Linked DNA regions of Homo sapiens: region 2 is linked to region 1. Evidence: fine-mapped expression QTL. Tissue or cell type: lung. Region 1 holds a variant in brackets; the other region holds the start of a gene. All regions are shown on one strand. Distances are between the middles of the regions.

The links. PIP is the estimated chance that this variant, and not a neighbour inherited with it, causes the effect. A credible set is the group of variants that fine-mapping cannot tell apart.
Region 2: it holds the start of ARHGEF33, and the variant in region 1 is the best candidate, but not a certain one, in a credible set for the expression of ARHGEF33 in lung (GTEx, PIP 0.85).

Annotation. Positions count from the first base shown.
Region 1 is chr2:38,863,247-38,871,246 of GRCh38, forward strand. It overlaps DHX57 (DExH-box helicase 57), which reads right to left. Exons shown (of 24, transcript NM_198963.3): 2 at 4,936-5,165; 3 at 115-273. The coding sequence starts at 5,159. Among named protein-coding and RNA genes, the nearest start is that of DHX57, 8.7 kb to the right of the region's middle. The variant C/G (reference allele first, on the strand shown) is at 4,444.
Region 2 is chr2:38,881,306-38,898,010 of GRCh38, forward strand. ARHGEF33 (Rho guanine nucleotide exchange factor 33) reads left to right here and starts at 8,570. Exons shown (of 18, transcript NM_001145451.5): 1 at 8,570-8,681; 2 at 14,472-14,544. It overlaps MORN2 (MORN repeat containing 2), which reads left to right. Exons shown (of 5, transcript NM_001145450.3): 4 at 137-273; 5 at 1,108-1,404. The coding sequence ends at 1,210. It also overlaps the pseudogene RNU6-851P.

The DNA.
Region 1 (8,000 bases):
TTAAATGGCCACAATAGAATCAGTACTGACACAGCATTCCAAAGATGCACAGGACCTTCACACTGCCAGTATGTTTTCCTTAATATAATAATTGACTCAAATAAAACAATTTACTCAGATCCAGCATCAGCATCTTGTTCTTGCAGGTCTCGGAGAAGAGCTTTCACTTTCTCTTGATTCTCAGAAGTCATATGTAGAGTCTGAAGGGGTACTTTGGCTTTGGGTTTCCATTTTGGGCGTGACTCTCCTTTGCTTATGTTACTGTTGCTAGGTCTATAGAGAACAAAAGAGCAAAATTACACACATATCTTCAATCAGAACTTTTACACTCTCCTCAGGGGTCCCCAGATATACACAATACAAACTGGATTGTCAAGTATCTTACAAAAGATGACAATGAATGTGAGGAGATTCTCCATTTTCTATAGTATTTACCAGACTTCATTATATCAGACCTGCTGGAAAAAAACCTTATCAGATTCTTGGCCAGGCGCAGTGGCTCACGCCTGTAATCCTGGCACTTTGGGAGGCCGAGGCTGGCGGATCACCTGAGGTCAGGAGTTTCAGACCAGCCTGGCCAACATGGTGAAATGCTGTCTCTACTAAAAATACAAAAATTATCTGGGCGTGGCAGTGCGCTCCTGTAATCCTAGCTACTCAGGAGGCTGAGGCAGGAGAATCACTTGAACTTGGAGGTAGAGGTTGCAGTAAGCCAAGATTGTGCCACTGCACTACAGCCTGGGCAACAGAGCGAGATTCCGTTTAAAAAAAAAAAAAACAACAAAACTTAACAGATTCTTAATCATTAATTCTGGCTTCACTAACTCAAGAATCCTTAGGAAAAAGCAATGCTAATGATGGTTTCCTCTGCACTATAGGACATGAAGAGCATTTCATTTCATTCTGCATTAAAATCTGAAAACCACTGAGTTTCATTCTTCCTTGTGAATATTAAGGCCCCATTTCTAAAATACCCAATTATCTTTATTTCTGATTATTAAAAAAAAAAAAAAAAAGGCCAGGGGCATTGGCTCACACCTGTAATTCCAGCACTTTAAGAGGCTGAAGTGGTAGGATTGCTTAAGCCCCAGGAGTTCGAGACCAGCCTGGGCAATATAGCAAGATCCTGTCTCTATTTAAAAAAAAAGAAATAAAAAAATTACACAGCATATATAATCTCTTATGATTTGTCTGATCATTAGGAAATGATCAGTTAAACATGAGGGGGAGTTGGGAGTTTCACATGCTCCTATCTTAAAGTCATCCTTTATCTTAAAGTCAGCCTTTCTATTTGTAAACTATATGCCAATCTCTTTAATCTCCTCAAGGAAATCATTCCAGCACTTATCCCCCTTTCTAAATCACTGGTTTTTCATTCTTCTTTGGATCATTCCCATCAGCATACAGACATACTATAAGGTCTACCCTCTTAAAAAAATGAAACCAAGCCAAATCCTCCCTTGAGTGCACATCTCCCTGTAGCTACTGACCCATCTCTCCTCCCTCTAGCTCCCTTATAGTAAAACTTCTCATTTAGGTTATCAAAATCATTGTCTCTGTCTCCATTTTCTTTCCTCTTCTCTCTGAAACACAACCCAATCAGTATTTCCTATGCTACTACAGCTCTTGTCAAGGTTAACCATGATACCCACATTGTCAAATGCAGTGGACAATTCTTAGTGCACATTTTCCTTGACCTACCAGAAGCATTTTTCCACAAATGTGTACCCTCTTTAAGCATACAATTCGATCTTATTGGCTACTCTCCTTTAAAACACCTTTGTCCCTTGGCTTCCAAAAACCACTCTCTTAGTTTCCTACTTCATTGGCAGCTCCTTCTCAATCCCCTTTGTTTTTCATACTTTCTCTTAGCTTTATTTATTTTTTAACTAAAAATTTTTATTGACACATAATAATTGTACATTCTTTATACGGTTGATAATGGTTTGGCTGCAAGTCAAATCTCATCTTCAATTGAAGTTCCCATAATCCCCACATGTTATGGGAGGGAACCGGTTGGAGGTAGTTGAATCATGGGGGCAGTCTCCCCCATGCTATTCTCGTGATAGTGAGTAACTTCTCACGAGATCTGATGGTTTTATAAGGGGTGTCCCCCTTTACTTGGCTCTCATTCTTCTTTCTCCTGCCACCTTGTGAAGAAGGATGCTTTTGCTTCCCCTTTCAGCATGATTGTAAGTTTCCTGAGGCCACCCCAGCCCTGTGGTACTGTGAGTCAATTAAACCTCTTTCCTTTATAAATTACTCAGTCTTGGGTATGTCCTTATAGCAGCGTGAGAATGGACTAATACAGGGGTACATGTGCTATTTTGATACATGCATACAATGTGTAGTGATCAAATCAGGGTAATTAGGATATCTAACACCTCACACATTTATCATTTCTTTGTGTTGGGAACATTCCAAATTCTCTTAGCTTTAAAACCTAGAGTGTCCCAGGGCTCAAACATCAGATACCTTCTCTATTCGATTTTATCCAGACTCAGAACTTTAGCATTTATCTATAGAAGACTCACACATTTACATCTCCAGCCTAGATCTTTTTCTTGAACCTCAGATTTATATATTAAATTATCTATTTTATATCTACACTTGGAGAACATCTCCTAACTGGTCTCCTTGCTTTCAACTCATGCCCCTTTATAGTTTATTCTCTACAAAGCACACCCAGTCAATGCTATTGAGTATAGATTCATAGACTGTACACTGCACAAAGGTTCCTGGCTGGGAGGGAAGAAGAGGGAGGAAGGGACAGCAAAATCCGGTCCATGTTCTGCTGGCTAAGCCATGATCCTGGTGTGGGGCTATAACTGTCCAAAGGAAGGAGCACCATTTTCTAATTCACATAAAGGCATACACTGAATAGAAACAACTCTGGCCAGACTGACTGATAATATCACACACCCTTGCCTCAAACCCTCCAAAGGCCTTCTGTCTTACTTCATGTAAAAGCCAAAGTCCTAATAATGGCCCATGAAGTCCTATACAGTCTGGTCTTTCTGATCTAATTGCCTACCACTTGCCTTCTTGCCCACTCATTCTAGCCACATGGTTCTTTGCTATTTCCTAAACCTTCCAAGCACATTCTTGCCTTAAGAAATTGCTCTTCCCTCTGCCTTGAATGCTGTACTCAGAACTTCACAGCTTATTCCTTTACTTACTTCTTGCCTCTCTTCACGTGATACCTTATTAGGGGGGCTTTCTACATAAATTAACAATTCTATTTTGGTATTTTATATCCCTGTTACACTCCTTTATTTCTCTCCATAGCATGCGGCACCTGGTAATGTTATACATTTGTTTATGGTTTTTCTATCTCAAATCCCATTCTATCTAGATAAGGACAATATTTTACTCCCTGCTGCAATTCCAAGTCCCTAAAACAGTGCCTGGTGCATGGTAGGCATTCAGTAAATACTTACCAAATGAATGAACATCTACGGACTCCAAGAACCTATAATGTCCATGTTTTGAAAAACTATGGAGCTGCAGCTAACTCAGAAGTTAGGTTCTTGGCTAGGCACAGTGGCTCACGCCTGTAATTCCAACACTATGGGAGGCCAAGGCAGGAGAATCGCTTGAGCCCAGGAGTTCAAGACCAGCCTGGGCAACATAGAGAGACTATGCTGCTTGCTATTTATAAAGTCTATAGTAGTGTACAGTAATATCCCTAGGCCTTCACATTCACTCACCACTTCCTCACTGACTCACCCAGAGCAAAATCCAGTCCTGCAACTTCCATTCACGGTAAGTGCCCTACATAGGTATCATTTTTAATCTCTTATACTCTATTTTTACTATACCTTTTCTACAACTAGACATGTTTAGATACACAAATACTTACCATTGTGTTATAATTGCTTAGAGTATTCAGTACAGCAACATGCTGTATAGATTTGTAGTCTAGGAGCAATTGGCTACATCATACAGCCTAGGTGTGTTGTAGGTTGTACCATCTGGGGTTGTGTAAGTACATTCTATGATGTTTGCACAACAATGAAATTGCCTAACAATGCATTTTTCAGAACACATCTCTGTCACTAAGTGATGCCTAATTGTAGTTATACTGTATAACATGCAATAGCAAAACATTTACTTTTATTAAATACTCATTAGAATTACTAGAATTCCCATAATTTATTCATTAGTTAAAAGTTGAACAGGAGAGAAACCTAGATAAGGCATCTGTTACTGGTCACCACATGTAACACCATCAGATGATGGCTGATTTGGCTGGAAAATACACAGCTCATCAACTAGAAAGACACAGTACAGTCATGTTGCACTTTAGGCTGTTCAATGTTTGTTTTTTGAGATGGAGTCTCACTCTGTCACCCAGGCTGGAGTGCAGTGGTGTGATCTCAGCTCACTGCAACTTCTGCCTCCTGGGTTCAAGCAATTCTCCTGCCTCAGCCTCCCTAGTAC[C/G]TGGGATTACAGGTGACTGCCACCATGCCTGGCTAATTTTTGTATTTTAGTAGAGACAGGATTTCACCCTATTGGCCAGGCTGGTCTCGAACTCCTGACCTCAAGCGATCCACACACCTGGGCCTCCCAAAGTGATGGGATTACAGGTGTGAGCCACCGTACCTGTCCATGTTCAATGTTAACATCATCATTTTAACATCAGTCTATGATGCATAAGGAATACTTAAAATAATTTTCATCACACTATTTCTGTATTTACTTTCCTAGTAACACTGGGTATAATAGCAGTATTACACTCAATTCACAGTGTCATGCAACCTACATACACACAAAAGCTGTTATTTCCCATCATGTCTTCAGAAAAGGGTTACAAAGAGGAAGACAATTTGACCAGAATTACTCGACTTTTTTTCCATTCTCAGCCATCTGTTGTCCCATACATTAGGGGTTGATACCATTTCCATATTTAAACATTCAAAGAGTTATAATGACCTGGAAGGGCGCCTTGATTCACTGAAGATACAAAAGTCATCTCCATCATCCCATATTCTACTGGAGGCCTTTCTGTTGCCGCCACCTCCACCACCACCACCACCGCCACCGCCACCACTCCCATGAGATTTACTGGCGTGACTCCTGCCTCCTCTTCCTCCTCTAGAAGACCCTTTTCCACCTCCTTTGCCTGGCTTGCCTTTTCTTCTTACTGAAGAACTCATTTTCACCTGCAAGAGAAAAAAATTAATGTAGACATCATAAAACCAGACATGTATGATAATCCTTTGTTTGCCAAACTTATGAATATAGGCTACTTTAAAGAAACAAAGGAAAATGCATATGTAAAAAGAGCTGGTCTTGGGGCAGGATTCTGAATCTGTTCCAGTGAAAAAATTTTAAAACTACAAAATAAAAAGAGCCAGCCAGTTTAGGGATAGTATGGATAAATCTTCACAAAAGATTTATAAGCACTTCTACCTCAGGACTAATATTTAGTGAATGTCTCTGATACAGATTTCTAAACTAAAGATGTACATCATAAACACATGGAGAAGTGTCAAAATACACATGTCTAGGCTTTAATCCTAGATTCTCATTTGGTTAGGTCTAATTTAGAGTTTTATTTATTTATTTATTTATTTATTTAGAGATGGAGTCTTGCTCTGTCGCCCAGGCCGGATGATCTCAGCTCACTGCAACCTCTGCCTCCTGGGTTCAAGCAATTCTCCTACCTCAGCCTCTGGAGTAGCTGGGACTACAGGCGCCTGCCACCACGCCCAGCTAATATTTGTATTTTTAGTAGAGATGGGATTTCACCATGTTGGCCAGGCTGGTCTCGAACTCATGACCTCAAGTGATCTGCGCACCTCAGCATCCCAAAGTGCTTGGATTACAGGTGTGAGCCACTGCACCCAGCCTAGCATAGGATTTTAAAAATCCAGTTGAGAAGTTTTCATGTATTTAATATATGTTTTGACAAAATTTAAATTTATATATGCTCTATCAGGAACACAGCTTGGGCTCAGAGATTCTGCCAAGGGCAAAAGGGAAGTAGGCCGTAAGACAGATAGCTCCTAATCTTTTTCCAAAGGACTGACTCCATTTACAATGGAGTGTGGAGAAGTTCAAACCTAAAGGTGCTTTCAAGAATAGTGAGGTTGTGGGGAAAGGGAGATTACAGGATTAAATGAAGATGTAGTTTAGACTGTTGGCCAACTAGTTTGCAGGAAGCAAACCAAGGAATAAGATCACTAGGAAGTTCCTTTTTGGGATTAGAATGAGTATTAAACTGGGATCTCAGAAACTATTGCTTCAAAGAAGCCATACTTTGGTTGGATTAGTTTGTAAAGGAATTTACTCTCCAGAGCATTGTTGAAAACAATTCAGCAATCAACCATGGGCATACCTAAAGCTGTACCTCCCAGAGGAGCAACAACAGAGGCTTAAAATCGTAGGAGGGAAATAGACTTCACTAAAATATTCTAGCCAGTCACTAAAAATTAAACCAGCAAATAACAATAAGAAGCCCCTGAAAGGGGAGAATCAGTACCCAGAGTTGTTACAGTATGTTATCCAAAATGTTCAGTTAACAACAAAAAAGTCACAAGGCATGCAAAGAAACACTTAAGTATAACCCATACACTGGAGAGAAAAAGCACAAACTGCCTATGAGTGAGAACAGATGTCAGATTTAACAGAAAAGGAGTTCAAAATAGTCATTATAAGTATGTTCACAGAAATAAAGGAATGCACAATTAAAGCAGTAAAGGAAGGTATGATGACAATGTCATATCAAATTGAGAACATCAATAAAGAGATAAAAAATTATATATATAAAAAGAACCAAATGGGAATTCTGGAGTTGAAAAGTATACTAATTGAAATTAAAAATTCACTAGAGAAGCTCAACCATAAACATGAACTAGCAAGAGAAAGAACTGATGAACTTGAAGACAGACTGACATTGATTATGCAAGCTGAAAACAGAGAGAACGATAAATGAAGAAAAGTGAACAGAGCCTTGGAAAAATGTGGGACACCATCAAGGGTACCATATACATATAATGAGAATACCAGAAGGAAAGGAAAGAAAGAAAAGAGCAGAAAAAATATTCAAAGAAATAATGGTAGAAAACTTCTCTGATTCATTAAAAATCAATAACCTCTACATGCAGGAAGCTCAATGGCCTCCAACTATTAGAAAATAAACACAGAGATGCACAAAATAGACATGTTGCAATAAAAATGTTGAAGGTCAAAAGACAAAGAGAAAATCATGAAAGGAGTAAGAGAAAAACAACTTATCACTTACAGGGGGGAACCCCAATAAAATTAATGACTGATTTCTTCACAGAAACAATGGAGGGCAGAAGGTAATGACATATATATTTAAAATACTCAAAGAAAAAAATAGGGCTGGGCGTGGTGGCTCATGCCTGTAATTCCAGCACTATGGGAGGCCAAGGCGGGCAGATCACGAGGTCAGGAGATCGAGACCATCTTGGCTAACACAGTGAAACCCTGTCTCTACTAAAAATACAAAAAATTAGCTGGGTGTGGTGGCACACACCTGTAGTCCCAGCTGCTTCGGAGGCTGAGGCAGGAGAATCACTTGAACATGGGAGACAGAAGATGCAGTGAGCCGAGATTGCGCCACTGCACTCCAGCCTGGGTGACAGAGTGAGACTCCATCTCAAAAAAACAAAAAACAAAAAACAAAAAAAAAACAACAAAAAATAGTTAACCAAAAATCCAGAAAAGCTATCTTTCAAAAATGAAGGTAAAATGAAAACTTTCTCAGACAAACAAAACTGAGAGAATTTGTTGTCAATAGACCCGCCTCACAAGAAATACTAACAGTTCTTCAAGTTGAGGCAAGTATCCCTGGATGGTAATTTAAATCTACATGAAAAAACAAAGAGTACTAGTAAAGGTAATTGAGTAATTATTTTTAAAAATCCACATTTATATTGGACATTTATTTATTTGAAAACCAGTACAAAAGTATTGTCTCTTCTTTTCTCTGAAATGATTTAAAAAGCAGTTATATAAAATAATATGTA
Region 2 (16,705 bases), 22 kb after region 1:
TACTATGGAAATAAAGGACAATACAAAGTTGGTTAAGTAATAATTAGCAGATGATAGACTTATATTTGTACATTTTTTAAAGGTTCTTGGGAAACTGAAGATTAGTTTCTAAGGTAATTTCCTTTGTTACAAACAGATGAATGGTTTTGGAAGACTTGAGCATTTTTCAGGAGCAGTATATGAAGGACAATTTAAGGATAATATGTTTCATGGACTGGGGACTTACACATTCCCAAATGGGGCAAAGTATACTGGAAATTTCAATGAAAATAGGTAAGCTTAAAATAAAAAAAAATCACTGCATTTCTAAAAGATTATTTTCTGGTATGTTTGCTTAAATACTTATTTATTTATTTATTTATTGAGACAGAGTCTCCCTCTGTCATCCAGGCAGGAGTGCAGTGGAGTGATCTCGGCTCACTGCAACCTCTGCCTCCCGGGTTCAAGCGATTCTCTTGCCTCAGCCACCCAAGTAGCTGGGTCCACAGATGTGCACTACCACACCCAGCTATTTTTTGTATTTTCAGTAGGGACGGGGTTTCACCGTGTTGAGCAGGCTGGTCTAGAACTCCTGACCTCAAGTGATCTGCCTGCCTCGGCCTCTCAGAGTGCTGAGATTACAGGCGTGAGCCACTGTGCCCAGCTGCTTAAATACTATATTTAGTTAATTCTAAATATTCTTTTATGATATAGTTTCTAAAAATTGTTGGAGGCCAGGTGCGGTGGCACAGCACCTCAAACATCATTGATAGTGAAAAAATATTTGTTGAATAAGTGAAGTAATTAAGCTAGATAACCGATATAAACTTTTCATTTTTTTAACTCATTGTTTTGGTTTTGTGTGAACCTAGATTATGTGATCCTAAAATCTTGGACACCAAATAATTGTTTGTTTTTGTTTGGAATAGTATGTGGTTTTTTTTTTTTTTTTTTTGGTTTGTTTGTTTTTTTGGTAGGATATGAAAGCAGGATGCTGGGTTTAAAAGCAAAGCTTGAAAGTAGAGGATATAATCTTCAGACATAGTATATATTATGCTAGAAAATCTTATATCTGGACTGTAAATTATTCATCTTTGTTAATGGAAAACTTATTTTCTACTATTGCAGGGTGGAAGGTGAAGGGGAATATACTGATATCCAAGGACTAGAATGGAGTGGTAACTTTCATTTTACAGCTGCTCCAGACCTGAAATTAAAGCTTCACATGTAGATGTGATGTTAAATTAAAGTTGAAATGTAGTAATTGAAGCTTTTAGTTGTAAGGAAAGCAACTTAATCTGTTATTTGAAATGACTTCATACACTACCCCTATAAGTTTGCCAATAAAACCATCACCTGCTTACACCTTTTTGAACTTTATATTCATTGTCTTACAATTAGTTTAAAATAAATGACATGATTCAATTCAGTCTGCTTATTATAATAACTATGGCAGAAGCATCCAAATCTTGGCAAAGTTGATTTCCAATCCTCTGTTTGAGTTTTGTCATTTTTTTTTTTTTTTTCTAGTTTGTGCTTGTGTGTCCTGGTCAACATCCGACCTCTTTAAAAAAAAAACAACTTTTTTTTTTAGGCTGTAATACATTTTATTCATTTCTTATTATTTTCTAACTTTTATTTTAGGTTCAGGCGTACATGTGCAGGTTTGTTATACAGGTAAACTCATGTCACAGTGTTTGTTATACAGATTATTTTGTCCCCTAGGTACTAAGCATAGTACCAATAGTTATTTTTTCTGATCCTCTCCCTCCTCCCAGCCACCATCCTCAGGTAGCCCCAGTGTCTGTTGTTCCTTTCTTTGTGTCCACAAGTTCTCATCATTTAGCTCCCACTTATAAGTGAGAACATTCGGTATTTGGTTTTCTGTTCCCGTTCTGTTAGTTTGCTAAGGATAATGAACACAATTTTAAGTGTACAATACATTATTGTTGACTATAGGTACAATGTTGTACAGCAGATCTCTAGAGCTTATTCATCTTGCTTGACTGAAACTTTATGGCCTTTTATTAGTTACCTCTTATTTTCCCATCACCCCAGCCCCTGGTAACCATATTCTACTCTTTGATTCTATGAATTTGACTATTTTATTTTTCTTATTTTTTATTTTTTTGAGATGGGGTTTCACTCTTTTTGCCCAGGCTGGAGTGCAACAGTGCAATCTTGGCTCACTGCAACCTCTGCCTCCCGGGTTCAAGCTATTCTCCTGCCTCAGCCTCCCGAGTAGCTGGGATTACAGGCACTTGCCACCATGCCCAGCTAATTTTTGTATTTTTAGTAGAGATGGGGTTTCACCATGTTTACCAGGCTGGTCTCGAACTTCTGATCCACCCGCCCTCGGCCTCCCAAAGTCCTGGGATTACAGGTGTGAGCCACCCCACCCGGCCACATTTGACTATTTTAAATACCTCATACTTAAAAGTGGAATCATATAGTACTGGTCTTTCTGTGACTGGCTTATTTAGAATAATGTCCTCAGGGTTCATCCATGTTGTCACAAATCACAGGATTTCTCTTTTAAGGCTGAGTAGTATTCCATTATATGTGTAAACCACATTTTCTTTATTCATTGTGGTGGACTGCTACTATATGAGTCAGCAATCCTACTTCTGGGTGTTTATCCAAAAGAATTGAAGCCGGGTGCAGTGGCTCATGCCTGTAATCCCAGTATTTTGGGAGGCCAGGCAGGCCAGGCGTTCAAGACCAGCCTGGCCAACATGGTGAAACCCCATCTCAACTGAAAATACCAAAAAATTAGCCAGGGGTGGTGGACGTTTAGTTTGTTTCCACATCTTGACTATTGTAAATAGTGCTGCAGTGAGCATAGGAGTACTAATATTTATTTGAGATCTTGATAGCAATTCTTTTTTTTTTTTTTTTTTTTTTTTTTTTGAGATAGAGGAGTCTCACTCTGTTGCCCGGGCTGGAGTGCAGTGGTGTGATCTCGGCTCACTGCAACCTCTGCTTTATGGGTTCAAGCAATTCTTGTGCCCTGGCTACCCAAGTAGCCAGGATTACAGGTGTGGTCCACCATCCCTGGCTAATTTTTTGGTATTTTCAGTAGAGACAGGGTTTCACCATATTGGCCAGGCTGGTCTTGAACTCCTGGCCTGCCTGGCCTCCCAAAATGCTGGGATTACAGGCATGAGCCACTGCACCCGGCTTCAGTTCTTTTGGATAAACACCCAGAAGTAGGATTGCTGACTCATATAGTAGTTTTTTGTTCTTGTTATTTATTTATTTATTATTATTATTATTTTAATGTGGACCACTTCACAAATCTGCATGTCATCTTTGCACAGGGGCCATGCTCATCTTCTCTGTATCATTCCAATTTTAGTGTGTGTTCTGCCAAAGCAAGTACAGTAGTTATATTTTTAATCTCTTGAGGAACTTCCATAGGATTTACCATAGCAGCTGCACCATTTTGCATTCCCAGCAACAGTGGGCAAGTGTATGGTAACCCAGTTCTTCCCACTTTCTTTCTGTGCCCTTACTGAAAATCACAGAGTACCTTGACTGCTCTGTGACCCAGCTGGCTATATGTTTTTCTCAGCAGGCTTGAACCCAAACTGGGCCTTGAACATTCCCAAGCACTGAGAAAGGTATTTCGGTTGTTGCTCAAAACACTGAAACTGGCCCCCAGCCCTGAGCCAAATTTCTCAAACTGTCATAGAAACTCCAGACTCTGATCCCCTTGCTGCAGACATACCTGGGTAGAACATTCCTTTTCTCTCTCAGCAATTGCTGCAGCCCTCTGTAAGGAAGTTTCCCTAATAAATTCTTTGGACTGATCACCCTAGAGCTTAGAGTTTTTTCTTTGGTATTCCAGCCAGCCCTATCTCAGGACAGTTGGAGACTCCCTTGTGGGAAGTCCCCCTGCCACTGCTTTTGGGGTGATTCCAGCCGAGGATTTGAGGGTTTAGAGAGACAAAACAGCAAGGGTTCAATTTCTCCACCTCCTTAGCATTTGTTTTTTGTTTTTGATGATAGCCATCCTGTCTGGTATAAGGTGGTATCTCATTGTGGTTTTCATTTCTATTTCTCTGATGATTAGTGACATCGAGCATTTTTCCAAATACCTATTGACCATTTATATGTCTTCTTTGAAAAAACGTCTGTTCAGTTCCTAATCCATTTTTAAATCAGGTTATTAATTTTTTTTACCATTGAGTTGTAAGAATTCCTCATATATTTTACAGATTAAATCCTGATCTGATATATGATTTGCAGATATTTTCATCCATTCTGTAGGTTGTTACCTTTTCACTCTGTTGATTGTTTCCTTTGCTGTGCAGAAGATTTTGGTTTGATGTGGTTCCACTTGTTTATTTTTTGTTTTGTTGCCTGTGCTTTTGGTGTCATTATCCATGAACTCATTGCCAAGATCAATGTCATGAAGATTTTCCCCTGTTTCCAACAACACATGGAAAGGGTCATATACCATGACCAAGTGAGATTTATCCCTGGGATGCAAGGATAGTTCAACATACGAAAATCAACTAATGTGATATTCTACATTAACAGAATAGAGGACTAAAATCACATAATCAGCTCAACAGATGCAGAAAAAGCATTTAACAAAATTGAGAACCTGTTCATTATTTAAAAAAAAACCTCTTAACAAATTAGGAACAGAAAGAAATTACCTAAACATAACAGAGGTCATATATAAAAAGCCCACAGCTAACATCATACTCAACAGTGAAAAACTGAAAAGCTTTTACTCTAAGACTGGGAACAAGGCAAGGATGCTAACTCTTGTCACTTCTATCTTTAAAAAAGTATACATTAAAGGAGACTATCAAGAAAATGGAAATACCATCCTCACAATGGGATAATATACTTGCAAATCATATCTGATTGTCAGAAATTTGCTTAATATAGTCACTGCCTCAGCATCCATTTTTAGGCCTGACATAAGTTGTCTGACATCCAGTCATATCCCATTACTCTTGGCCTAGTTAAAACTTTCCTTCCCCTTGTAGTTGTTTGCAATACAGCCCACTTGTTCCTTACCCTGCTGACCCAAAACCCAACACATCCCACAGGTGCTGACCATGATAAAACCTAAAGGTCAAAATAAGTCATGCAAAAATAAGTTCCCCCTTTCCACATGTTTTCTTTAAACTAGCCAATCCACAACCCCAGAGGGAAAGCCTAAGGGATAACATCCGTGGACCTTAATAAAGGTGTAGTCCTGTGGTCTTCTCTCTCACCCCCACCCCACTGGTTGAGCTCACTGCTACCTCCAGATTTCCAGAAACCATAGCAATAAAAATTATGACACTGATACAAAGTCTAGTTTCCAAAATGTATAAAGAACTTTTACAACCCAACAATTAAAAAAACCTTAATTTTTAAAATGGGCGGGGGGCAGTGGCTCACACCTGTAATCCCAGCACTTTGGGAGGCCGAGGCAGGCAGATCACCTGAGATCAGGAATTCAAGAGCAGCCTGGCCAACATGGTGAAACCCCATCTCTACTAAAAATACAAAAAATAGCTGGGCATGATGGCGGGCACCTGTAATCCCACCTGCTCAGGAGGCTGAGGCAGGAGAATCGCTTAAACATGGTAGGCGGAGGTTGCAGTGAGCCGAGATCGCGCCATTGCACTCCAGCCTGGGCAACAGAGCGAGACTCCCATCTCAAAAAAAAAAAAAAGGTCAAAGAATTTGAACAGATGTTTCTCTGAAGGAGATATACAAGTAGCCAATAAGTAAACAAAAAGATGCTTAACATCCTTACTCTTCAGGGAAATGAACCTTAAACCTACAAACCCACCGTGAGATACCACTTCACACCAACTGGGATAGCTATTATTATTATTATTATTTTATTTTAAGTTCTGGGGTACATGTGCAGGATGTGTAGGTTTATTACATAGGTAAATGTGTGCCATGGTGGTTTGCTGCACTTATTAACCCATAACCTAGGTATTAAGCCCAGCAAGCATTAGCTATTTTTCCTGATGCTCTCTCTTCCCCCACTTCCACAACATGTGTGTTGTTCTCCTCCTGTGTCCATGTGTTCTCATTGTTCAGCTCCCACTTATAAGTGAGAACATGCATTGTTTGGTGGGATGGCTATATCAAAAAAAAAAAACAGACAATACAAAGATTGGCAATGATGTGGGGAAATTGGAGGCCTCACACATTTCTGGTGGGAATATAAAATGGTGCAGCTGCTGTGGAATACATTTCCTCAAAATATTAGACATAGAGTTACTACGTGACTCAGCAGTTCCTAGGTATGTACGCAAGGGAATTGACTTGCACACGAATGTTCATAGCAACATTATTCATTGCTATAGTCTGAATGTGTCCTTCCAAAATTCATGTTTAAACCTAATTTCCTCACGACTGTAATCCCAATACTTTGGGAGGCCAAGGTGGGTGCATCATTTAAGGTCAGGAGTTTGAGACCAGCCTGGCCAACATGGTGAAACCTCCTCTCCACTAAAAATACAAAAATTAGCCAGGCGTGGTGGTGTGTGCCTGTAATCCCAGCTACTCGGGAGGCTGAGGCACAAGAATTGCTTGAAACTGGGAGGTGGAGTCTGCAGTGAGCCAAGATGGCGCCACTGCACTCCAGCAGGGGCAACAGAGTGAGACTCTGTCTAAAAACAACAACAACAACAACAAAAACCTAATCTCTACTGTGGTAGTATTAAGAGTTGAGGCCTTTAGGAGGTGATTAGGTTATAAGGACAGAGCCCTCATGGATGGGATTAGTGCCCTTATAAAAGAGATGTGAAGGAGATTGCTTGCTTCTTCTGTCACAAGAGAATGATGCAAGAAGGTGCCATCTTTGAAGAAGAGAGCAAGTCCTTACCAGACACTAAATCTGCTAGTGCCTTGATCTTGGACTTAACAGCCTCCAGAACTGTGAGCAATACATTTCTGTTGTTTAAAATTACCCTGTCTAAGGTATTTTCTTATAGCAGTTCAAATGGACTAAGACATGTATAATAGCCCCAACTGGAAACAATCCAAATGTCCATCAACTAATGAATGTGTAAACAAAATGTCCACATAATGGAATATTATTCAGCCATAAAAAATGAAGTACTGATACTACAACATGGATGAACTTCAGAAACATTGTACTGGCCAGGCAGGTGGCTCATCCTGTAATCCCAGCACTTTGGGATGCCAAGGTGTGTGGATCGCTTGCCAGGAGTTTGAGACCAGGCTGGGCAGCATGGCAAAATCCCATCTCTACAAAAAATACAAAAATTAGCCAGGTGTGGTGGCACATGCCTATAGTCCCAGCTACTTGGGAGGACTGCTTGAGCCCAGGAGGCAGAGGTTGCAGTGAACCAAGATCATGCCACTGCACTCCAGGATGGGTGACAGAGCAAAACTTCATCTCAAAAACAACAAACAAACAAACATTGTACTAAGTGAAAGGAACCAGTCACAAACGGCCACATATTATATGATTCCATTTATGTGAAATGCTCTGAATAGGCAAATCCTTAGGGACAGAAAATAGATTAGTGGTTGCCAGGGGAGGAAGAAATTGGGAGGCATGAGGTTTCTAGAATTAGACAGTGGTGATGGTTGCACAGTCTTGAAAATGTACTAAAAACCACTGAATTGTTCATTTAACAGGGACAAATTTTATGTATGATGTGTAAATTATGTCTCAATTTCTTAAAAAGTAGATCTGTGTGTTGTCATATATTCTATGTCCAGAAAACTTCTTTACTTTTTACATAAGATAATTTAAAAATTACCAGAGCAGTATATGTCAACTACATTTAAAAAATTACAATAAAGACCTGAATGTTTTTGCTGAAACTCTATATTCTAAAACTGACAAAAAATAGTGTACACAATAGATAACTTCTTTGTCATATTTCTCTATTCAAAATCTTGTGAATATTTGTATTTCTCAATATGTTATTGCCAAAAGATGTATATTTTTATTTTTTGCTGTACTGGCACAAATTTGGGTTACAATGTCTTCTAAAATGTTAAAATAAAAATGGCATTTTTGTTAGTTTCTCATAATAATAGCTTTATGGCTAATTTTGAAAGACCCTATTTGTAAGTTTTCAAAGACACATTTTAAGAATTGGACATTTTTGTATATGTTGCTAAACATTAGCTGGCATGGCTTTAGAATTAAATATTATTATTATATGGAAATTCATGAAGAGACAAATACTGGACAAGTTAAGATAAGGTGAGAAGATGTTTTCAGGGACCAGGACATATAATTTAAATTCAAAAACTTCTGGAAAATATAGAAAAGTATCTGCTTTGCTGCAAAATAAATTTTCCCTAATTTTTTTCAATTTATTTAAGGCAGCAAGATATATATTTTACTCTTAAAATATTTAACTTGTATTGCTATGTTAATAACTTTTCAAAGTACAACTTTTCAATTTTCTAGTATACCAAAGATATTCCTCCTAAATGGGTTTCTTCCTTTTTACTCATTGAAACTAAATGCAGTTCAGTTATTTGATTAGTTGATGCTAGAATTTGACCTGGAGCTTATATAATTAGAAGAGACACTAGTTTTCCTCATTTAAAAGCCTGGTTAGCATACTACGGTCTCGTTTCAGGGGAAGTCAAGCCTCTCTACTGCTTCTTTTTATAACCTTTAAGTTAATTCAGAACCCAGATAAGCCTTGATCTGAGGATGATATAACCACCGCAGGCAACATGGGGTAAGTATGCGCTTTTATATGCTTTAAGGGGCACTGAAAGGGGAAACAATTTTATAAGAGATGAAAACCCATCAATCCTTACCACGTGGTGTACTAATTTAAATCCAATATATGCTAACATTTATTTGAGGTAGGCATTCAAAGAAATAACTTTTATTTAAGAGTTATAACAATTTGTAAAACATTTATTTCCTTGCTTAATTTTTATATTATGTCTTAACTGCGCTTTGCAGGTTATCGATAAACTGGAGACTGAAGTTGTTCTGCATATTAATAAATATAGTTGAAGATGAGTTAAATTTTGAGAGCAGTCTTAAAGAAAGGATGCTAGACAGCGTAAATCTGACATGGACATGCCTCTTTGGGATTAAGAATAATTAAAGAATGAAAAAGATTAGGGATGGAGGGAGATTGGTTTATTCCTTTCTAACACAGAAAAAGAATAGGGGAATCTTCAGCATTCACTCCCCTATGTACAGAACAAAAAACATATCCTGATTGAAAATGTGTACTGATTAATTACATGGGGGCTTTATTGGTGAAACCTAATTCTAAACACTTCATGGGGCTTTGGTGTGTAATGAGAAGAACTGAGTTTCACTTAAACATTGTCTTAAGTGAGAATAGCGTTCTATTATAATTAGTATTGGAATTATGTGAGTTTTTATATGCTGAAATAGTATTCTGAATATGTAGAAATCTCTATATCACCCTTTTATATTTTTAATAGCCCCTTTTAATACAAAATCATATTGCTGTAAATGGAATAGCTATTTCATTGAAGGCTACTTCTGAAGGATTCAACATAATGATCAGAAATGTATCCTAGAGAAAAAAGTTTTTGATGCACATTTATTCTAAACATTTTTCACAAACTGAATTAATTAATGTCTACATTTTTCATAACCATGGGCTCTGGAAATGCAATCTAAACTCATTTGAAAACTCAGAGGCTTTTGAAACAAGATGACCATACTATTGGTTTTTTTTTTTTTCTTTTTTCTTTTCTTTTTTTAGACAAGGTCTCACTTTGTCACCTGGGCTCAAGCAATCCTCCCACCTCAGCCCCCACAGGTAACTGAGACCACAGGTGCACACCACCACACCCGGCTAATTTTTGTATTTTTTGTAGAGATGGGGTTTCGTCATGTTGCTCAGGTTGGTCTTGAACTCCTGATCTCAAGCAGTCCTCCCACTTCAGCCTCCCAAAGTGCTGGGATTACAGGTGTGAGCCACCATGCTCGGCCTTATTGTTAACTTTTTCTTAATTCCCTTTATTTACCTTCCCTTTTCTCTGTGTATAAGGGTGTACTTCAACATAGCAGGCCAGTAATAAACTAAGTAATGTAGATACAAAGATCAACTGATCTTCCTCCTTCCCTTCCTCTCTCCTTTCCTCCCTTCCTCTCTCCCTCTTCCTTCCTTTCTTTTTCTTTAATGACAGCAGTTCTTAACCTTTTCGGTGTCAAGAATTGCTTTTAGAATCTTCAGAAACCAGTCCACCATTTCTGCAAAAAAAAAAGTAAAATCACACAAAATTTTGCATACAATTTCAGAAGATTTACAGGTGACCTGAAACCCTATTCCTGGGACCACAGGTTAAGACCCTTAGACTTTGATTTTAGGACTGGAGTATGATTTGTTCAATATTTCTCTTTGTTTGGATTTTTATAAATGTAAGAATCTTTAAATTCATAATTCTTGCTAATCTTCTCAAGGACAGTGTGGAAGATTCCCCACCCGCCCCCCACACAATTTACATGAGTGTGAAACACAGTTTAACCAACATGCATCACATTACTGCTGCTGGGCCCCAAGGACTTGACTAATCACTTGTGCCTTTTGAGAGTGCCAGGAATCACCTTGGGAGTCATGGAAGGAAAAAAAACCCTCATTATGTTATTTGTAAAGCACTTTGAATGCCCCAAATAAGATGAACGAAACAAATCATAAATGCTAATATTACAGAGAGCACTCTTCTGATTGGTATGTTCATGATTATTTTGTTGTCTGTTCATGCCTTTACTGACAAAAAGACAGGGTAGTAAGTATTAACATCTGTTTGAGTCTTCCTAAAATAATCAGAAAAATAAAGAAAAAGTGGCAGCTAATCGGATTCTCAAATTTATCCATTTGAGGAAATCTCTAGAATTTATTTCCTGAGAATGAGGGAGTAGCTGTTTTGGATTTGTCTTTGGGGCCTACTTATCTCAAATGATTTGAGGATATAATTCCCTTATATGGGGCAATGCCAGCCCTTTCCACCTTTCCCCAGGCTATGCTGGCATGGTTTTAGCAAGCAATGAAGAAGCAAATACTGGAAAATTCTTATGCTCTCTAAAAAAATCTCCTCCTCGTAATTTTCACTGGGTTTTTTATGGAGTGTGTGAGTAGGTGGGGTGGGTAGAGATGATGCCTAAAGGTGGGTAAACAGATAACTGGGGAAAAGTAGAAAAACCTAACTGACATCTGCTAAGTACCATAACACCCGGGCAAAGGATGAACAATGGGAAAGAAAGGATGGTTGTATTTCTTTTTTGAGACATTTTAAAATGTGCTTTCCCCATCTCCTAGCAGAGTTAGTCAGTGCACCCCCAATTGACAAAAACAAAAGTTAAGGCTCTGCTAAAATTGTAGAACCAAGTTCATTATTATAGCATATTCAGCCTCCTTTTAGTCTCCTGGTTCAAATAAGTTAGAGTAATTTTAAAAATTATCTTATGACATATTTCCTCCTTCTGAATCTGAGAGTGACTATCCAACTCTTTTTCTTGGGTGAAGCATACATTTGGCTCATGGAGCAACCTTTGAAATGTCGCTTCTATCTGTGCCCTCCTTTCCTTTCTAAGAGTCACTTCCCTAATTCAGGTCATCATTATCTTTTACTTGAGTTATTAAAGGTGCCTGCTCACTGGCCTCTTTGCAGCTGCTCTTTCCTCTACAGTGCCACTAAGTCATCTTCTTACCAGAGATATGTGATCTTGTTATACCTCTGCTTAAACATTTTCAATGACTCATTCTCTCCACTGCAGAGCAAGCTCCAAAGAAGAGATTCAAGGCTCTCTATCTGCCCCCAATCTACCTGTCTAGCCTCACCTTCTACTCTACCTTCTTTGCTCCCTAGGGTTCCTAAATCCACCTAGGCCTTGTGCTTTGTTCCTCTGGTAATCCTTTTTTTTTTTTTTTTCTTTTTTTGAGACAAGGTCTCACCCTGTTGCCAGGGTGGAGTGCAGTGGCACAGTCTTGGCTCACTGCAACCTCTGCCTCCTGGGTTCAAGCAATTCTCCTGCCTCAGCCTCCTGAGTAGCTGGGATTACAGGCACCCGCCACCATGGGCTAATTTTTGTACTTTTAGTAGAGACAGAGTTTCACTATGTTGGCCAGGCTGATCTCGAACTCCTGAGCTCAAGCGATTTACCTGCCTCAGCCTCCCAAAATGCTGGAATTACAGGTGTGAACCACTGTGCCTGGCCCCTCTGGTGATCCCCTTTTGACCGTTTCTACATATCATGCAAAGCCTGGCTCAAATCCTATCTTCTTAATGAAGCTTTCTCTAATCCCCACAAGGGAATTCATCTTTTCTCTGAAAATTTTAGGCACTTTACACTTTTCTTTTTCATTTGTCACAATCCATTATATGTTACAGTTATTTATGTGTCTCATCTTCCCTTCTAGACTGGAAGCAGAAACAATGGCATCCTTTCATTTCTCCTAGCACCTGGTACAATGCCTTTTATGTGGTATATGCTTATTAAATACTTGTTGAATGCACGTGAACTCTGTTTAAACCCCTAAAAACTTAATTTTAGCCAAACTTTCTTTCTTTTTTTCCCAAGTGAGTTACCTCATTTTCCAGGTTTCTATCTGAAGAGCTCAAATGAGTGAGTAGTATCTAAAATGTAGGCAATTCAAGGGAGATAGGGCACAAACAAGGGCTGGAGTGAAGACTTCTAAAGTCTGAAGACTGAAGACTGAAGACTGTTGTTAATAAGCAGAAAGCACACATAGGCTCCAAGGAAATATAAGAAAACTTTCCAGAATTAAAAATCGTTCTTGCCAGGCTGGCTCACTCTTTTGATCCCAACACTTTAGGAGGCCGAGACACTGGGATCATTTCAGCCCAGGAATTCGAGACCAGCTTGGGCAACGTGGCAAAACCCCATCTCTACCAAAAACAAAAAACAAAAAACAAAAAAATTAGCCAGGCATGGTGGCATGCACCTGTAGTTCCAGCTACTCAGAGGCTGAGGCAGGAGGATTGCTAGAGCCCGGGAGGTCGAGGCTGCAGAGAGCCACAATCACACCACTGCACTCCAGCCTGGGCTTCAGAGAGAAAACCTGCCTTTAAAAAAAAAAAATGTTGCTTTTGGGCTCTGGATAGCTTCCTAGAACGCCAGCATATCAGTAAAGATTGAGTTAATCTGTATATGCTGGGGGAAAAAAAAAAAGAATAATAATAGAGGCTTAAACAAGCTAGAAGTGTATTTCTCTCTTACATTAAAAACAAACAAACAAACAAACAAGCCCACAAAGGTAGGCAGTCTAGTGCTGTTAGATGAGTTCCTTAGTGAGAGGCCCCCAGGTTCCTGTCATCTTGCTCTTCTGCCATCCTTAGTATATCACCTCTTGGTCCAAGACAGTTGCTAGGTCTCCACCTATCTCACTGATGTTCAGCCAGCAGGAACGAGGAATGGGGAAAAAAGGTGTGTTCTCTCTTTTAGGAGACTTCCCAGTGGTCACTCAGTGTTTCTACTTGTATTGCATGGGTAGAAATCTAGTCTCATGGTTACACTTAGCTGTGAGGAAGAGGGGAATACAGTCTTTTAACTGGGTTTCCAAAAAAAGAGGAGAATGAATACTGGGTGGCAACTAGCAGTGTCTGTCAGAGCCAGTATCAGGCCTTACATGGCCTCTTATATTCCTTTAGACAAAGTACAGCATTATGTACAAAAGTAATCTTTTAAGAAAAAAAAAATCAGTAAAATTAAAGGAAAAAAAGAGGAAGCCAAGCTGGGAATAAACAGATTCACCCAGAATAAAGGCCTCTTGATAAAGTGACAAAAGGTGACCAAGTAAGGCTTTGCCCCTCCCTAAACTCTATGTCCCAGTCTCCCTCCCTCCAGGCTTCGTGTCCCTGAATCTTCACATCCACACTGTGAGGCAAGTATTACTATTACTAAGCCAATCATACAGGTCAGGAAACCGAAGTCCAGGAAGATTCAGTGAATTGGCCAAACTGCCCGTACTGCAGCAAAAATTATATAAATCACAGAATGTTTTCTAAATAGATTTGTTCTTAATTTTGAGTATAGATCACTTCAATTGGCGCTTAAAGAAAAACCTATTACAAACACATTTCACTTGTCACTTGAAGTAGGTGATTTAATGTGGAATATTAGAAAAGACTCTAGATTTGTGGCTTTCAATATTTTACGGTCATATCAACTGCTTTGAACTCTTCTGATTCAGCAAAGCCCCCTAAGCCATGTTGGAGTTCTCGAGCTATGTTTTTAAATACATAGAAATTTATTTTTATTAGTCCCCCAAACATATGAATACTGAGGTGATTGTACTTGCTCAATACCAAGTGACTTAAAAATTAAAAGACTAAAAGAAACAAAGACTTTTACTTTTTTACTTTATATGTTTTTTACCTATTAGAAATCTTTAACAACAGTGAATTGCATATATAATAAGAACTTTTAATTACAAAATTATAGGAAAAAATGATGGTATAAAATGCAAGGTAGCTATCATTATCAATGGCGTTTTTTTTTTTTTTTTTTACAGAACTTCTAGAGAAAACAAGAAGAAGACTTCAAAAAACATGCTGTGATGTCTCCCAGTGGAGACAGGGCACGAGGTGAGTGAAAATTGCAAAGAACTGTTTTCTAATAAGAACACAGGCAAACTGAGAACTTAGCTTAAACCAGTGATCATTATTGAAGCAGAAGTATTATAAATTTCTTTGTAGAATTTTATAACCATTCTTGGTTTGATAACCATCAAATAAACAAATTGTGAGATTACTTAATTAGCTAGCAGTAAGGGCAAATAGCCACCTTCTAAACCAGCTATGTTACATCAGACTTGATTGCGTATATGAATGCTAACAGCATTGAGACAAGAATGAACTATGCTTTTTTGTTTGTTCGTTTTGTTTTGTTTTGTTTTGAGATAGAGTCTTGCTCTGTCGCCCAGTAGTGCAGTGGTGTGATCTTAGGTCACTGCAACCTCTGCCTTCCAGGTTAAAGCAATCCTCCTGCCTCAGCCTCCCGAGTAGCTGGGATTACAGGCTCACGCCACCATGCCCAGCTAATTTTTGTATTTTTATAGAGACAGGGTTTCACCATGTTGGCCAGGCTGGTCTTGAACTCCTGACTTCAAGTGATCTACCTGCCTTGGCCTCCGAAAGTGCTGGGATTACAGGTGTGAGCCACTGCGCTCAGCCATATTATGTTTTAATTAAGTTCTATTTTGGATGTCTTTGATGATTGTGAAAAATAGACAACATCTACTTTCCATTGAAGTTATGTATTCTGAGTTCCTACTTCATGCTGGGCTTTGTCACTTAATAACCATGTGGGCTAGGTAACTATTATGCCCACTTGACAGTTGAGGGAGCATAGGCTTAGGAAGATTAACTTTCCCAGGTCACAAAATGAAATAAGTAGCACAGCTGGGATTGGAAGCTAGATGTCTGACACACTTAAGAAAAAAGTCTCATAATTTAAAACATTATTTTTAAATTTCAAAACCCAAAAGTGCTCATTGTAAAATAAAATACAAACGTGATCATGACAGAAGAGTTTAAGTGAGATTTAAAAGCCCATCATCCTACCCCTAACCCCATTCCTCTTTCCAAGCATAACCACTGTTAGTAGTTTGGTATAAATCCTTCCATATCTTTCTTTTTGCCCGGCATACTTTTCTTTTTTTCTTTTTTTGAGACTGAGTCTCACTCTGTCACCCAGGCTGGAGTGCAGTGGCACGATCTTGGCTCACTGCAACCTCCGCCTCCTGGGTTCAAGTGATTCTTCTGCCTCAGCGTCCCGAGTAGCTGGGACTATAGGTGCACACCACCGCACCCAGCTAATTTTTGTACTTTCAGTAGAGATGGAGTTTCATCATATTGGTCAGGCTGGTCTCGAACTCCTGACCCAGTGGTCCGCCCGCCTCGGCCTCCAAAAGTGCTGGGATTACAGGCGTGAGCCACCACACCCAGCCAACCCAGTGTACTTTTCATAGTACACTCGGCAAGAGAAAGATATGGAAAGATTTTCACAGTATCACACTTGAACATATGAAAAATATCCATACTTTTCACAGTATCACACTTTCTATCCACTTAAATAAAAAAACAGAGGAAGTTGAATTTAGTATATATCTTTACTAGAATAAGCAGCTACCTCTAAACAATAACTGAAATGCTCATTCAGCTAATATTAGGCATCTATCTGTAGAAACTCAAAGAACTCTAGAACTCACTCTCTGTTTCCCAGGGACTCATAATCTAGTGCAGTGATTTCTAAGTTTATTTTTGAGAGAGTAATTATAGACTCCTTTGAGAAACTGATGTGAGCTCTGAACTCTTTCCCAGTAAGAAAATGAACCTATAAAATTTTGCCTATAATTTAGAGGATTTGTGGAAACCTTGGGAGTATGGATCCCTGAACTTGTAGAAGTGAGACTTTTAAATTTATAGTTTGATAGAAATACTATAATGGAAGTGTAGACAAGATGCTATACCACAGCACAGAAAAACAGGGCTGAACTCTCCTGGGTCATATCAAGAAAGCCAGGGAAGAATGACATTTGCACAAAATATTGAAGGACGCTAGGAGTTTGACAGCTAGCCTGGTGCAGGGGAAGGATGTCCACAGAGGGAACAGCCCCAGAGGCTAGAATGGATGGGGAACCATGACTGTCTTCGTGATAGAAGCCCAGTATGTGCATGGGAGTGACTAAAGATGAGTCTCCAGAGCTGGGCAGAAGCCAGAGCACAAAGGGGTTGGTCCGTTGGG